Regions from separate parts of the Homo sapiens genome. Here region 2 is linked to region 1. A link means that fine-mapping ties the variant in region 1 to the expression of a gene that starts in the linked region. Tissue or cell type: adrenal gland. Region 1 holds a variant in brackets; the other region holds the start of a gene. All regions are shown on one strand. Distances are from middle to middle.

Region 1 (8,102 bases):
CAGAGGGTCTTTGGAGGCTTGGTTGGTGAGTTCTGTAGAGGATCCTCCAGCATCAGGTTTGACAAAGTCTGAGCCAGGTTTTATTTATTTATTTATTTATTTATTTATTTATTTATTTATTTATGTTTAAACAAGTTCTCGCTCAGCCACCCACACTGGAGTGCAGTGGCACCATCTTGGCCCACTGCAACCTCCACCTCCCAGGTTCAGATGATTCTCATTCTTGTGCCTTAGCCTCCTGAGTAGCTGGGGTTACAGGCATGCTCCACCACCCCCAGCTAGTTTTTGTATTTTTAGTAGAGACGGGGTTTCACCATGTTGGCCAGGCTGGTCTTGAACTCCTGACCTCAGGTGATACGCCCGCCTCGGCCTCCCAAAGTGCTAGTATTATAGGTGTGAGCCACTGCGCCCGTGGGCCAGTTATCCTTTACGCCTCCTGGCTACCTGCAGCCTTAAGAGTTGATGACTTGGCCGGGCGCAAGATGACTTCTACCAAGGCGGGCGGATCACCTGAGGTGAGTAGTTCAAGACCAGTCTGGCCAACATGGTGAAACCCCATCTCTGCTAAAATACAAAAATTATCTGGGCATGGTGGCGGGTGTCTGTAATCCCAGCTACTTGGGAGGCTGAGGCAGGAGAATCACTTGAATCCAGTAGACGGTGGTTGCAGTGAGCCACAATTAGGCCACTGCACTCCAGCCTGGGTGGCTGAATGAGACTCCATCTCATAAAAAAATAAAAGAGTTGATGACTTAAGACCTACCTTGCTGCTGCTTCTTTTCTAGCCTTCTACCAAGAATAGGTGCTGAATTTTCCACTCTGATCTCCCCTTTTCCCCTCAGGGGTAAATGCTATCTCACTGAAGTAGATGTCTCAGCATCCGTGAGTTAGTGGCACCAACTCTGCCTCTTAAGCCAGAAATCCTGGGTTCGATACTTGGCTCTGTCACTTTCTGGTTTGTGCCTGTAAGTATAGCCATTCCTTCTGTGCCTGTCAATGCAATGGAGATAATATTGGAAATAACATCTGCTTCTTGTGATCATGGAGATTAAAATAACATATGTGAGAGGGCTTGGCACATTCTCTGTCCCTGATGTTCCGATACTAAACAGGAACTCAACAAATGCTGGTTCCCACCCTCCTTCCTTCCCCTCTTATGGAAGGGCATTGCTTTAGATTTCAGATTCAGAAAAGGAGGGTTGAATCTGAACTGAGTTTTAGGTTTCCCATCTATAAAATGAGAAAAGAAAAAGACATTTACACTGAGTTTGTTAGTAATCAGCCATCAGCCATTGGACTTGGCACTCTACTATATTAGGATTATTATATCTAATCCTCCCCACAACTTGGTAGGAGAGGCATTATCACCACTGCCTCACAGAGGAGGAAACTGAGGCTCAAGGAGGTGAAGAAACTTGCTCGAGGTTATGGGCTAAGGGTCAGAACTGGCTTCAAACCCAAGTCTCTCCAACCCAAAGCTTTCGCTTTTTTCTCTAAGATGCCACTACTGCTGCCATTATCACCACTACCACTGCGTGTTCTGTGCTGGTCTTGCCTTCTTCCCTTGTCCTCTGAGGCCACTGGACCCAATCGATGTGTATTTTTAGTGACTTTGAGTTTATTAACAAAAAGGAAACAAACATGTTGTAAAATAAGTTTATGACTTGAAGCATGCAAAATGGCAGAGGGTTACCCTTTTAGAGGATGATAATTTATAGTCACCTCCACCAACTCCAACCACCCATCCCCACTGGACCATGAACTTGGGTTGTCTTTTGCCCTCCACTTCACAGAGAAGGGGCTGATCAAAGGAGGGGCTGTCATTGCACTAGCTCTCGCCCTCCCCCTGTGGGTGAGTCAGCTCTGCCCAAGCTGGTAGAGTCAGGAAATAGTTCAGGTACCTCGAAAACAACTGTTTAAAGTGTCTGGGGGAAAATAAAGTGTTTTGGGGATGTCCCCAAGCCCCACTTGGCTTGGATAGCAAAGCTAGGGTGTCCTTTCCTTGCCTTTCCAACTCTTGGTCAAAATATGCTTCCTTGGGATGACTTAGAAGAGACTTGTTTGGGAATCACTTTTCTTTAACTTCCAGAATTCCTAACTAGGGTGCCTGAAGCAAGAGCTGGGTCTGGGAAATGACGCAGCTCCATGAGGAATGATGGAAACTATGCGAGCTGCTTTTAATAGCATCAAATATGGCACAGCACAGTCCTCCTTCTCCCTAGCCCCCACGTGCTGGTAGCCTGGCCCACATGCTCTGTGGCCCAGACTGAAAAGCCAGTGGTTGTCTCTTCAGGGCGGCTGTGGACCTGAATGTATGCGGGACACAACGTAGGAGGTTCAGGCATTAATCTCCAGTCTGTCCCATGAAAGACCCAAATGTAATTTTCTGGCCCAAGAAAATGAACCTTTGGCTTCTTTTTCTATCAGTGTAGAGGAGAGCACGGAGCTTGGGACTCAGCATGAGAAGATGTGGTCCTAGTCGCATCTGTCACATGCTGGCCGTGTCTCCCCTCTCTCTGAGCCTCCTTTTCTTCCGCACAGCTCCTCACAACGCTTGCAGCGCTAAAGGATGATGATTCCCAAATCATGTTTGCAATCACGAATTTCTCAGCCATGGCAGGGCTCTGTCTCAATCTATAGCAGACCTCTCTGGAGCAAAGTTAGGGACGGAGGAGGTAGAACTTCTTTCTCTATTTATCTTACATTTTAAACTTATTCTAATACTTTTCAAATATCGAATGTCTATATTTGTATAGTAGTACATATGTATAATTTGTAAATCAATTTGTAAATAAGATATTGGTAGCTTGTGCTTTAAGGTTTCTTTGTTTGTTTGAGATGGAGTCTTGCTCTGTTGCCCAGGCTGGAGTGCAGTGGCACCATCTCGGCTCACTGCAACCTCTGCCTCCCAGGTTCCAGCGAGTCTCATGCCTTAGCCTCCTGGGTAGCTGGGACTACAGATGCACACCACCACGCCCAGCGAATTTTTAAATTTTTAGTAGAGATGGGGTTTCACCATGTTGGCCAGGCTGGTCTGGAACTCCTGGCCTCACATGATCCACCTGCCTCGGCCTCCCAAAGTCCTGGGATTACAGGTGTGAGCTACTTCGTCCAGCCTTAAGGCTTTTTGCTGAAGGGAGGTGAGATTTAAAAATGTATGGAGACCACAGGGGGATGGGGAAGTCAACATGAGGCTCTGCTCACAGGCTGGGACCTCTGCCATTCCTGTCATGCCCTGGGCTCTCCACCGTCCTCCCAGAGGTGGATCACCAGAGCTCTGGGTGGAGAGGCCAGGCCCAGGAGTGGAAAGAGAAGAGGCCTGGAGCTTCACTCCTCATTAGATGCCTGCCTAATCTCTGTGAGCCTGTCTCTCCACGTTAATTAGGGGCAATAAAATACTCCTTATCTTTCAAGGTTATAGAAAAGATTAAATGAGACGATAGAGATGAAACGTGTGCTCAGTTCAAGTTGTTCCCCTTCCCCCCACATAATTTGCCTGTCTGCACGGGACTCATTTTAGATGTCTAAAAGAGTGAGATTTTTCTTTTCTGGGAAATTCTGTTTATTGACTTTATTGCGTCTCCTGTCTCACAGTTAAGCCTCCTTTACCAGACGCCAAAGTCCAGATCTACGTGCGGTTAGGTGCACAAGGCCAGCGGCAGGAGAGTGACGCTGGGGAATTCCTGCCTGGTCCTCCCAGCCCTCTGAGCGCCCCCCACTGCCAGGGGTTTGGGGCTCATCCAGGACACAGGACAGCATTCAAGGACACTTAGAAAAGAATGTGCCTCCAGCAGGTCAGCCAGCCATCCTCACTAGTGCCCCCAGGAAGGGATGGCTTGAGCTTTGCTGCCTCCTTCCAAGTCTGTTGCCACACTCGGTGACACTGGGATACATCTATTGTCAAAAGAAAGTCCCAGCTTTGTTGCTGTGTTTTTGGAGGCCTTGGGCAAGTCCCTCTATCTTTTTTGGCTTCAACATCCTCTGTTATAAAAAGGGATGAGTA[A/G]TATCTGTGTTGCCAACCTCCTGGCCTTGGTCCACAGGCCAAATGAGATGCTTCTGAATGAAAATACGTAGTAAGAAGTGAAAAGGATTGCGATGAGTAAGCTTCTTGTTGGTCCAATCAGTGCCAGTCCATGCTCATTTCTTCTCGAAAAGACCCACTGATTTTTATAGGGTAAGGAGGGGGAATGATTGGCAAGGCACTGACCAATCCCATTAGCTCTGAGAGGGGGATGATTTAGCATCACCTGCCTTATCAATCTCCCTGCCCCGCCTGCATCCTCGGCTTTTGGGGAGGTCAATTTCCGGCACACACAGAAAAGCCTGTGGCTGTGGCCGGGAACAATTGGCCACAGTGCTCCTCTCGTGTTGATCCTTTCATTTCCTCCTGCCGGGGACAGCGGTTCTAAGTTTCGCGCTACTCTTTTGGACTAATCGTTTACAACAGGCCTGAGCACTCAGCCCCTCTCTCACTTTTGCTGTCCAGCTACTGCTCTGTATGGCAAGGTCGCTAATTGGGACGTGATCCTGGCCAAATGGCAAGAGAGATTCAAGGAACCGGTTCCCTGGACCTCAAATATCCTGCCCCCAACTTTACAGCTCAGGCGGCCACGGAGGAAGCGTGAGTCATACTTGAGAGGTGAGGCCGCGGCTTAGGAAAGGCTTCGGCAATGACATTTTTCACGCTTTTAATAAACCCCTGTATTATTAGAACTTGCCAAAGCTGAATTTAATGAAAGTCTTAGGCCCTAAGGCCTGAATTTTTCTTTTGTATCGCAAAATGAAACCAACTGGTTCAATTCAAATTAACCCCAGAAAATGTGAGGGCTTTATATTTCTTTCTTTCCCCCCGCCTTTCTTCTCTCTCTCTTTCTCTGCTCTCTCATTTTGAAATTTTGCTGTGATTACAATCTCTTGGAAGAAAAGGAAATGTACAGGAGGAAGAAGAAATCAAACATGAGAAATATATTCAGATAGTTACAACTTTCTCTATGGGACTCCTTAAGCAGAGTTACCCATCACTGATACAAGTTCATATGAGAATTTTTTAAAGGAAGAGAATGAAAAGGCAAAAAATAAAGAGGTCCTCTCAAATTGTACCAGAGACACAATAGGATTTAACATTCAATTTTATGAAAGCTCCTTCAATTAGACCTGCTAAGCATCAGTCTTGTGCAATACTGGTGCCCCCCAAACAAACAAACAACCATTTCAGAAATAATAAAATGACACGTTCTTTATTTTTCAGATTTCTGAGGCTTAGCCCTTGGAAACTACCCTGGGGGGGCGATATTAGGGGTGGTAAAGTAATGTGCCACTGGGCACCTGGCCTTCAACTATTCAGAAGCTACGGTGGCAGGAAATAGCTCAGCGGCAGCTTCCGTGTTTGCAGGAGCTAATGAAAAGACATCTTTTTTCCCCCTCACAGCTACGTTCATAAACAAATGTTCACTATCCAACCTTCACTCCCATTTGGCACATAGTTCCCAATAGAGCAGGCCTTCAAATGCCTCCTTGTCCTTTATGGAGCAGAAAGGTACAAGGGCTCAGCCTTCAAGGCCTTCCCCGCGGGCCTTCCTGAAGGCAGGTCAGTCAGCCTCAGGGGGCACACGACCCCCACTGGAGCTACTGGACTAGAAAGTTACCCAAGATGTGGGGAGGGAAACGACTGTAGATACCCTGCCTTCAGCATCTAGAGGCAGGCAGTCGAAGGGGGCTGGGAAAAAACCCAGGCCCAGAGCTGCCTTTGTCTTGGCTGATTCCTCCTTTTGGGAATCAGGCTCAGCTCCGATTCCTGCAGGGAAGTCCCTGCTTGGCATCAAGGCTGGCCTCAGGCATAAGATCCTAATTATTTGAATGGTATTTGTTTTCATAGCTCTTTTTTTTTTAAAAAATGTGTCCAGGTCGATGGCATTTTAATGCCTTATTAAACAGGGGTTTTACAGCAGTCTGTCTGTTCAGTCTCTGGGCCCATGCCTGCACTTTGTGTGCAGGGATTTTATCTTTCCTGCTGGCCGAAAATATTTTCCGAATTCCCTATAAAAGTTTTCGAGATTTCCTAAGACAAATAGAGCTCCACCAGCTCTAAAATGACCTTGATGCCGTCGGAATTATATTCAGACACAGGCTTTCTCCCCTGTTTACACAAAGAACTGAACCTCACTTGTACTCATGAACTGCCGTTATGAGGACACCAAATTTGCTCCACAAATGTGCTGGTGCATAAAAACACAACTGTACCTGGGATGGCTCACCAGAGTCCCATACTTTACTGGTTTCTTCCATCCTCTCAGATGGCCGCCTTGGCTTTGAAGGCAGCATCAATAAAGCCTGTCCTGGATGCAGTTTCCATAAGAGTGGGCAGCAGCTCCCAGCTGAGGGAGCAGCCAGGCCTGTAGTGGGAACATGGCTGTCGTGAAGACCACAGAACCCACCCCTTTTGTTTACTTGCAAGTGTTTAAACCTTTGTGAAAATGAAGTCTTTTCAGAAAGAAGCTGGATTTAGAAAATATTACCATAAGCCACAAGTCAGGCTACTTAGTGTTATGGAAAAAACCTAGAACAGACATGGGTTCAAATCTCCTTTCTGACATGCTGTAGGGTGTGATCTTGGGCAAAATAAAAATAAAAAATAGTACCAGGTTCTTTATTTTAAAAAATGGGGAAAATTATATATGTATATGTCTCAGGGTAGTTGTGAGAATCGATATGAAGTAACGTGGCTGGGCGCGGTGGCTCATGCCTGTAATCCCGGCACTTTGAAAGGCCGAGGCAGGTGGATCACCTGAGATCAGGAGTTCGAGACCAGCCTGGCCAACGTGGTGAAACCCCATCTCTACTAAAAATACAAAAATTAGCTGGGCTTGGTGGTGGGCACCTGTAATCCCAGCTACTTGGGAGGCTGAGGCAGGAGAATCACTTGAACCTGGGAGACGGAAGCTGCAGTGAGCCGAGATTGTGCCGCTGCACTCCAGCCTGGGCAACAGAGTGAGACTCCGTCTCAAAAAAAAAAGAAAAAGAAAAAGAAAAAGAAAAAGAAATGAAGTAACGTATATAAAGCACAGAGGGCAATGACTGGCAAGAGTAATTGTAAATAGTAGCTACTATCTCCATTTCCTGAGGGTCCTTAGGACTCAGATGAGCAGAAGCACAGCCACTGTGTGTCCTGAGGCTTTGATAAAGATTCTGGAGGTGGGAGGGGAAAGGAGGTCTCAGAGACTGAGTGTCAACTCTGGGCCAGATACAGTGGTAGGCGGTGAAACTAGAATTTAAATTCCAATCTGACTCCAAGATCTGCAAGGGCTGGTTCCACTATGCAGATTGGGGAAAGTGTTGAAATTAAACATGGGGAATTATGTCAGCTGCCTGCAACACAGCCTAAGCCTGAACCAGGCCAGATGGGGCTCATTTTGTGTAGGTAGCATTAAAAAAAAAACCCTCCAATAGTAACTGTGTAGCCACCAGGAAGCTCCCTCTGAATTTCTATTTTGCTAGGTCATTTTTCAGCATTACCCTTTTGGTGGTATTTCACTAAAAATGCCACATTTAGTATTTAAGACAGACAGACAAATACCCTGGGAAGGAGTTTGTAGGGATGTCCAGCCCATTCAGAACATTCCTGCTTATTCCATGTCTGCTGGTGTTAAGCACGTCACAACCAAAGATGGAGGGTTGTCTGATGGCCGCAGTACAAAAGGACAATTAACCAGGGGTCATGTTTATGCTTCTATGGTTAGAACCAGTCATTTATTTAACTAAGACTTTCCACTTTCATGGAATCAATGAATACTCTGAATTTCAAGGACAATTGTATGTTTCATTCCTTGAAACTCTATTTGATTCTTTTTCAAGTCAGCTTAGTCTTAAAAATTATTGCTTTTTCTGATGTTCACAATCTCTTCTTTTTTGTATTTAATTATCTTAAACAATTTTAAAATAATCTCTAGATGATAATTCTGTTATCTGAGGTTCTTGTGGGGAGGGGTGACTAATCTAACTGCCATTTATTGGGTCTACTGATATTTCACAACAGATATTTATCTTTTATTGTTTTATAATTTTATGAGAATTCATCCTAAGCTAGGCTTTATCTCCTGTCAGAT
Region 2 (8,102 bases), 42 kb before region 1:
TAGAAACTACTTTTATTTTTTCTTTATTTTTAAATTTTATTTATTATTATTATTTTTGAGACAGACTCTCACTCTATCATCCAGGCTGGAGTGCAATGGCACTATTTCGGCTCACTGAAACCTCTGCCTCCCAGGTTCAAGTGATTCCCCTGCCTCAGCCTCCAGAGTAGCTGGGACTACAGGCATGCGCCACCATGTCTTGCTAATTTTTGTATTTTTAGTAGAGACAGTGTTTCACCATGTTGGCCAGGCTGGTCTTGAACTCCAGGCCTCAAATGATCCGCCTGCCTAGGCCTCCCAAAGTCCTGGGATTATAGGCATGAGCCACTGCGACCAGCCGAGAAACTACTTTTTAAAATTTAGGGCCAGGACAAAGTCTGTTCCTTCACCATTCACCAAAGAGTTACTGTTTCCACATTTCTGATATAGAGAACTACCATGTTGCTCTGCTGGCTCATAAGCCAGATTTTATTCTCAATTATAGCAACTTTGTCAGCACTTAGTGATAGCATATATGCTTACTCCTTTTTCCTTGATCCTAATGTGTTTTTCTACTTGTGTTTTTATTAGCTAATTCTGGTTATAAACCACCTCAAGCCTTTTGCGGAAAAGAGAAAAGTAGAATAAATTTTTAAAATACTTGGGAGCTAGCCTTTATCAACCATGCATTAATATAGGCAATCCTCACAATAAGCTAGTAGGTTGGCGTAATTATCCCCATTTTATATGAGCATTAATGAACTTGCCCAAGGTCACATAGCTGCAAAATGGTGAGCCAGGAATCAGAGCTAGGTTTCAAAACCAAGGTGAGCCTGCTACCAAACCTGAGCACTTTCCCCCAAGCCAACCCAAATCAGTGTGACCGATGTGTGGCACCGTCAGTTATTTGTTTAGCTAGTTGAGGAGGGTTTTCATATTTTGAACTCCTCAAAGTAGTTTTGGAGAAAAAAAAATTGGTCTTCTCCTCTTCTACACAGGCTCTTTTTCAGCAAATACTATGCAGCATCCATTATAAGCTTTTCTATTATTTTACATACGACTAAGAAGAAAAAACGCTGCTAATTAAGCTATGACACACCGCTAGCTATCAGATGCATCTCAGTTTCAGAGATACCAGAATGTGAAAAATGTGTGTCTTAGAGTCAGTTAAATGAGGTATTCCATTCTAATAATGGGGAATGTGCATACAGAACCGCTCTCATTTACTCACTTGCTGGCTGGTTTGCCCCTTCCTTTTTACTGCCAAAAGCTTACCTGTCCCTTCCATATCTCATTTCTCCATGTCATCATGAACCTGTTGATATTAATTTAGACTGTCTGCCATCAGTCTCCAGAAAGCCTTGCACTTATAGGAAGGTTCCAGTCTAGTTTGTTTGTTTTTGTTTGTTTGTTTTATTAAAGAACTATACGATACGATCTCAGTATGAACTTCCTCCAATGACTGTCAACAAATTCTTTCCAGAGTCTGGCCTAGCTCTAGTCTTCCCATAGTACCTGGTGATTCACTGCCCTCCCTGTTCACCATTCCACACAGTAGTTGGTTGCTTAGTCTGTATACTATTTATTTGCAAGGGATTTCCCTACAGGCTGTTGGAGAGGTCATGGGAGGGGGCTTGCGAGCAGAAGCTGAGGCATGTCATCCAGGTCTCCCTAACACAGGAAACACGACTCCCCAGGCATCTCCTGAAACGCCAGGGCCTTCCCTTTCTCCATTCCAGGAGTCCGCAGGTTTGGGGAAGGATTCTGCTCCTCCACTCCTCTTAGATATTATTTCCCCTCCCTGGTTTGAGACTCCATGAGAGGAATGGTGATAGGGTGGTGGGACCTGGTACTGCAATGGTGATAGGGACTTGAGCAGCGGCCCACTGTTGAGGTGGATTTCAGGCTCCTGACAGCAGCAGCGACTGGCTTTTCTGAGTTGGCGTTTTTGCTTCCACCTTTGAGTGCAGGGTGGTAAAGAAGGCATTGATGCTGGCTTTCCATTTCCTAGCATTAGAACAGGGACAGACCCATCCAGGAAAAGAATTTCCCTGTCCTCTCCCCTTCAAGCTGATTTTGAGGTCAGAATCTGGAAAGGGACAGAGGCTGGTTGAGGACACTGGTGGAGGGAGGGATGCAGCCCATGCTAAGCACTAAGGGACCACTCTGGGGATCCTTATTGATGAGGATTCTGCTGTCTTTGCAGATGGGTGGGCAGGCCTATTTCTGCCCCAGGATTCTGGGCATGTGACAGGCGGGGAGGCTGGGGCACGGGCTGGGGTCCGCATGGGTCCGTCTGCTAGTGGAAAGGCAGCGTCCTGTGGGAGGTACAGACAGAGAGAAACAGAGGTAAGTGGAGACAGAGAGCTCAGAGGCTGGGCAGGGAGGTCTAGGTGCTGAGCGGGACTCCGTTTCTGAGGCGGAAAGAACCGGGTGGCTGGGAGCAGGACGCTCCCCAGTCTCCACTTCCTAGACTAGGGCAGGCATTGGGCTTCCTCTTCAGCTCTCCAGGATCTCAAGGAGCTGCCGCGGAATCCTGGCCCTGGGCCGCAGTTTCCCCAGGAGGCTCTGCCAAGCCTGGCACCTTGCAGCCCGGCCTGGGCTCTGTCAAGGCCCGAGCCGGACTCGGCTCCACTCAGAGGCCGGCCCAGCACTTCCCTGCCGCCGCCGCCCCGCACCCGGCCACCGGGCTTCCTCCCAGTCCTCACCCCTGACCTCCGCGGCCGACTTCGAGGCGCGCCAGGCCGGGTCCAGCGCCCGCGGCCCCCTGGGCCGGGACAAGGAGGGCGGGTGAGCAGAAGGGCCGTGCCCAGGGCCTGGAAGTGCAAGGCCGCGTGGTGGGCATGGTAGGGAAGCGGAGCGTGGGCCTGTGAGGCGCGTGTGCGCCTGCGACCTCGGGACCGGGGCTCCCAAATGAACAGCGCGCACAGCTGGGAGCAGGGCTTGGGGAGCGGGGCTCTGCGGCCGGGGATCCGTAGAAGCCGCTGCCTGGAAGCGGGCGCCGGCAGGGGGTGGCCAGACCCGGTCGTGGAGCGTCCTAGTCTTCGGGCACGGCGGGGCCAGGCGAGCCCTCCTGGTTGTCGAGCCTCGGCTGAGAGCCGGGCTGCTCGCCCTTGCTTCCCGCCTCTCTAATCTAAACCATGCGGGGCTCCCAGCCCCTACCCGGCTCGCGGGGCCCGAGGGCCAAGAGGAGGGCACTGGGCCGCGCGGTGGAGGAGCCGGCGGCTCGCGTGGGGCTCGGGATCTTGGGGACCGCGACGCCGGGGAACCCTGGAGCCCCCCTCCCCGGGGGACAGCGGGCGCAGACTGATTGACAGCGGCGACGTCAGCGCGGAGGGGGGGCGGCCCCAGAGGGAGGGAGGGAGGAGGAGGGAATTGAGGCCCCAAAGTGCAGCCTTGGAGATCAAGGGCCCGCTCCAGAGCCGGGATGTGTCCAGCCCCGAGGGCACGGCAGGCAGCTGGACCCTGACCCAGCGGCGCGGAGTCGGAGCCCCGGCCGTCCCGCGCTCCTCGGACCCGAACCTGCAGGGGACCTCGGGCCGCTGGCGCCTCCGCATGCGGCACCGCAATTAGGGTGAGTGTGGGTTCCAGCCGAGTGGGGACGAGCTGGGCGTGCGGGGCTGGGGCCACAGGGGCTCAGGGTTAGGCTGCGGGGACGGACAGGAGGATGAGCTGGAAAGGGGTGAGTCACGCGACCCGGGGAAGAACTTCAGGGGCGGTCAAAGTTGCAGGAAGGCGGCGCGAAGTGCCTTGGGTCGGGCCGCCGCCTCGGCCCGACACCCAGTAGTTGGGGCACGAGCCCTCCTCTCTGAGTAACGCGATGAATTGGGTCTAGAGATCCAAGAGCATAGAAATATCGACAGCGCCAGCACCCTAAGAACAAGGCCGTGACAGGCGGAGCGGTGGCCTGGAAATTGGTGTTTGCAGAATATGCAAGGCCAAGGAAGAGGGCCCCGGTACTGGAGCGAAAATCCGTGTAGATATGTGAGTGATCAGAACACTAGACTCAGAGCCTTTGATGCAATAGACTAGTCAAAATTAAAGCAAGGAACATTATATATAAATAATGATCGATGATTAAAGATTATTGGAATGTGAACAATTACCAAAGAAAGGGCTAATCGGCATAACTGATATAACACGTGAACTTCCAAATAATACAATCATAGTCACTTTCAGAATCAAGTGAAAATAGTAATCACAATTTTTAAAAGGATTAAAGACAAAGTAATTCTAAATAGAGGAACAATGTAAGGACTGTTTATTAAAACCAATTGCACTAATATAACATATAGTAATAGTGTAACAAATTACCAAACTGTAGGAAACTAGCAAACGAACTGTAGGAGAAAGATGAACAATGAAAATACTATTAAGGGAAATACTATTAGTGGTAGTGATATAATAATATAATGTATTATTGATACTACAGTGAACTATTAAAAGAAATATTAACTAAAATCTTAGGAGCAATAGTAATATAAATAAAGACATATTAACAAGAATTGCTGGAGTAATATGACAATTTATGACCAATGTATTAATAGTCACAAGAACATTATAAATAATGGTTGAGTAATAAGAAGTATTGTACCAATGTGATGAAAAATAATCAGAGTATTAAGAGCTACAACAATATTACAAAGTATGACAAAATAACAAGAAGTAATGATGTGATGAGTAACTAGCGAGTTCAGATCTGTAACATTACAAATAATGACAAAGTAACAAGATACTGTCGGGGTGTGTTGAAGAATAATACCTGGAGTGTTATGAGCAAGCCTAACAAAACAAATTGTGGTTAGATAACAAGAAGTATTATAAGGATGTGAGGGAAATTAACATGAATTTTGAGAACAATTATATAACAAGTTATGGTAAACAAGAAGTTATTGAAACAGCGTGACAAAGTATAATCAAAATGAAGAGCAAGCAACGGAAACGTATTAGGGATACAAAGCAAGAATAAAAAATTACAATAGATTAACGTGACCTATTGTTCACTATGTCACCTCGATATTGGAAATAGTATTATGAATGTGCCAGGCGGCCCTGAAATGATGGAACAGTGACAGGAAAACAACAAATTTAGTAACAGTAAGCTAACGAATCAAAGCAGGGCTTTAACCATACAGTATTAAAGATACAAAGTAGTAATAATCCACGCGATAGGATATTCTCAAAGTTCCCGAACTGATCAAAATACTACTATGGTAATAAGGACAATTAAAATATTTTAAAAAGCACGAAATAGTAACAGTTCCCCTAGTGCAAGAAACATATCCCCAGTAACCTAAAAATGAAAAGAGAAATGCTGTCGTCTTTGGAAAACGAGGCAGCTGAAAGCAACAGACCCCATCGCAAAGGCAGCGGAGGTTGCGGGCCGCACCCGCGGAGGAGTGGATGTGAAGGACGAGAGCGGACCGCTATGCGGTGCTGAGTGCGGGACCCCGCGGTGCTGGCGGCGGCCGAGCGCGCCCAAGCTCGAGGTCCGAGAGGACCGCGAGGACGGCCGCCCCGGGCCAGCCGGGCGTGGAAAAAAGGAAATTGCTGGGAAGGGGGCAAGCTGTCCCGAGGTCTGGATGTGGCTTCGTGGCGGAGAGAAAAGGAAGAGGCAAACCCTGAGCCCGGGAGGGAGAGCACTGAGCAGGCCTCGTCCCCAGTCCGAGCTGCGGGACCGGCGTCAGTGGACGCGGGCGGTGAACCAGCTCCTCACAGGGCAGGGCTGAGCGCGTAGGACTGAGAGCGCAGGGCGCGAGCCGCAGGGCTCCGCTGCACGGCTCCGGGTGTGACAAGAGCCCAGCAGAGGACCCCATGGCCATGCGGGCCAAGCGCGAGACGGCCCCTCCTTGCGACCCCGCAGGCCGCCACATCTGGGACCAGCGGATCGCTTGGTCGCTGGAGCCGATCCCGCCGGGGCCCTAGATATAGTTGGACCCAGCGCGCTGGCCGGAGCGGGCAGCTACCCTACTGGCGCAGCGGCCCTGTGTGGGGACTCCTAGGTTTCCGAGGCTCGGCCCGCGTTCGCACGTGGCCCGAGGCGGGTGCTGGCGCTGGCCATGTCCAGCGAGTCTCACTCCCTGCAGGCTGTGGCCGAAGACTGGTCCGCCTGTCAACCTTATCTTTATGGGTTTTTCCCAACCCAGACTGGCCCCGGCCCCTTTTTATCTCCTGGGTTGCACTTGGCTTGTTTACTTTGCGAGGTCCTGGGAGTCGAAGTCTAAGCCCGGGATGAGGAGGCCTCTGAACAAGATGGGCGAGAGGCCTGAGCCCGGGGATGCTCCGGGAGGGCCCGGGGAGAGCGGGAAGAAGGTAGGAAGAGAAAGGCGGGGCATTCCGCCTCAAGAAGGGCCGTCAGACCTACAGAAAGCTCCGCTGGAGCGCCCAGGTCCAGCAGGATGGGGAAGAGCAGGGAGGTGGAAAGGGGAAGCGGAGCAAGCGGGGCACACCCTTAAGGGATGCGGGCAGGCTGGCCTCTCAGGCTGTGCTCTCATCCCGAGGCCCCAGGACCTGCTTCGGGCAGGGAGCAGGCACCTGAGTAGGCGAGGGAATCAGCCAAGACAGCCGAAGAAATGTAGCTGTGCCAGGCAGGGCTAAGCGGTTCCTGTGAATGGGCCCAGCCTGCTGGCCTGGTCCTTCACTGGGAAGGGTGTGGGTCTTTAGGCCCAAAGCAGAGCCCTGTGGCGCTAAAGTGTGCCTGAGTGAGCCTGTAGGTTCGAACTCGAGCACCAGGTAGGGGAGGCCTGGGCTGAGGGCAGAGCCTGGATCAGTCACCCAGGAGAGTGTGGCTGCTCAGGCTGGTGGGATGCTGTGTGAGGGGCTGTGTTTGGGTGTGAGGATGTCTGTGCCAGAACGGGAAGAGGATGTGTGTGGACGGGGAGTGTGTTGGAGTGAAAGCCTTTGGTTCAGGAAGTCTCTACCTCAGTGCTGTCTGAGGGGTTGGGTGAGGGCAGATGGGTGAGCTGGGCCTGAGGTCCTGAGGCCCTCTCTGCACACAGGTGTGGAGCTGCAGGAGCCTGGGCCCTGCCCTCCAGCCTGGCTCTCCTTTCCTGCATGGCCAGGAGGTGTCCTGGCTGTCCTGGGCCCACAGAGAGGCCTGGACCCCAGTTATTGGGGAACAGCCGAGAAGGCCCAGGCCTCAGGCTCCACCGGAGCTCAGTAGGAGTGAGGGACTCGGGGTGCAGCTGTGGCAATGCCGAGAGGGCGGTCCCTCCCCTAGACCTACTCATCACAGAACCCCACACCCAGGGGCAGGCAGACATTGAACTGCCGCAGACCCTCCCAGGTCCACAGCCTGAAGGGAGGAGGCGAGGGACCTGCCTTCCTTGCGGGTTCCCTCCTCCAGCTCAGGAGGGGGCGGGGTCCACGTGCTCCAGGGCTGCCTCCGCGCCCCGCACGAAGTCCCGGAATCGGCTGGAGAGGGCCAGGGGTCCTCTGGCGAGTGTGGACCTGGGCGAGTGACTCGTTGTGTGCTGTGCCCGCAGGAGATGCTGCAGGATAAGGGCCTGTCCGAGAGCGAGGAGGCCTTCCGGGCCCCGGGCCCAGCGCTCGGAGAGGCCAGCGCAGCCAACGCCCCCGAGCCCGCGCTGGCAGCGCCGGGCCTCAGCGGAGCCGCGCTAGGCAGCCCCCCGGGACCCGGGGCCGACGTCGTCGCCGCCGCCGCCGCGGAGCAGGTAGGGCTGCGCCAGCCGTCGGGTAGAAGTCGGGCGTCGGTCTGTCTGCGGGGCCGCCTGTGTCCGTCTTTCCGTCCGATTGTCGGCAGGACTCGCTTTCAGGAGGACCTGGCTGCATTCAGGACGGTCTGCCCGTTCGTTCTCCACTGGACATGGCTCGCTTTCTCTGCCTTTTGGGTCCTTCTCCACTTTGAGCCCTCGGGGCTACTCTGGGACAAGCAAGAGCTAGAGCTAGAGATAGAGGAGAGGGCGGTAAGAGAGAGGGAGACCCCCGTAGCATCTGAGCGAGCCTGGACCAAGTGTCCAGCTCCAACAACCCGTAGAGGGCCTGGGACCCAACGGCGAGGGGGCAGGAGGAGGCCACCCCGCCGGTGCGCACGGGAGCCGCTGCGGGGATCCGAGGCCTCTGGGACGTCGCCGAGGGCTTCACAGTGATAATCGGACGATCAC

Which allele goes with the higher level. Positions count from the first base shown, and alleles are read on the strand shown. Sizes are in standard deviations (SD) of each study's normalised expression.
For the expression in adrenal gland of the gene that starts at base 3,398 in region 2, allele G in region 1 goes with a lower level than allele A (moderate effect, 0.52 SD a copy in GTEx).

What was found. PIP is the estimated chance that this variant, and not a neighbour inherited with it, causes the effect.
Region 2: it holds the start of TBX4, and the variant in region 1 is fine-mapped to the expression of TBX4 in adrenal gland (GTEx, PIP above 0.99).

Annotation. Positions count from the first base shown.
Region 1 is chr17:61,491,132-61,499,233 of GRCh38, forward strand. No RefSeq gene overlaps it. Among named protein-coding and RNA genes, the nearest start is that of TBX4, 43 kb to the left of the region's middle. The variant A/G (reference allele first, on the strand shown) is at 4,004.
Region 2 is chr17:61,449,025-61,457,126 of GRCh38, forward strand. TBX4 (T-box transcription factor 4) reads left to right here and starts at 3,398. Exons shown (of 9, transcript NM_001321120.2): 1 at 3,398-3,553; 2 at 7,464-7,652. The coding sequence starts at 7,467. LOC124904042 (a long non-coding RNA gene) reads right to left here. Exons shown (of 2, transcript XR_007065872.1): 2 at 4,218-8,102. RefSeq lists enhancers at 3,368-4,209, 5,010-5,891, 5,892-6,772.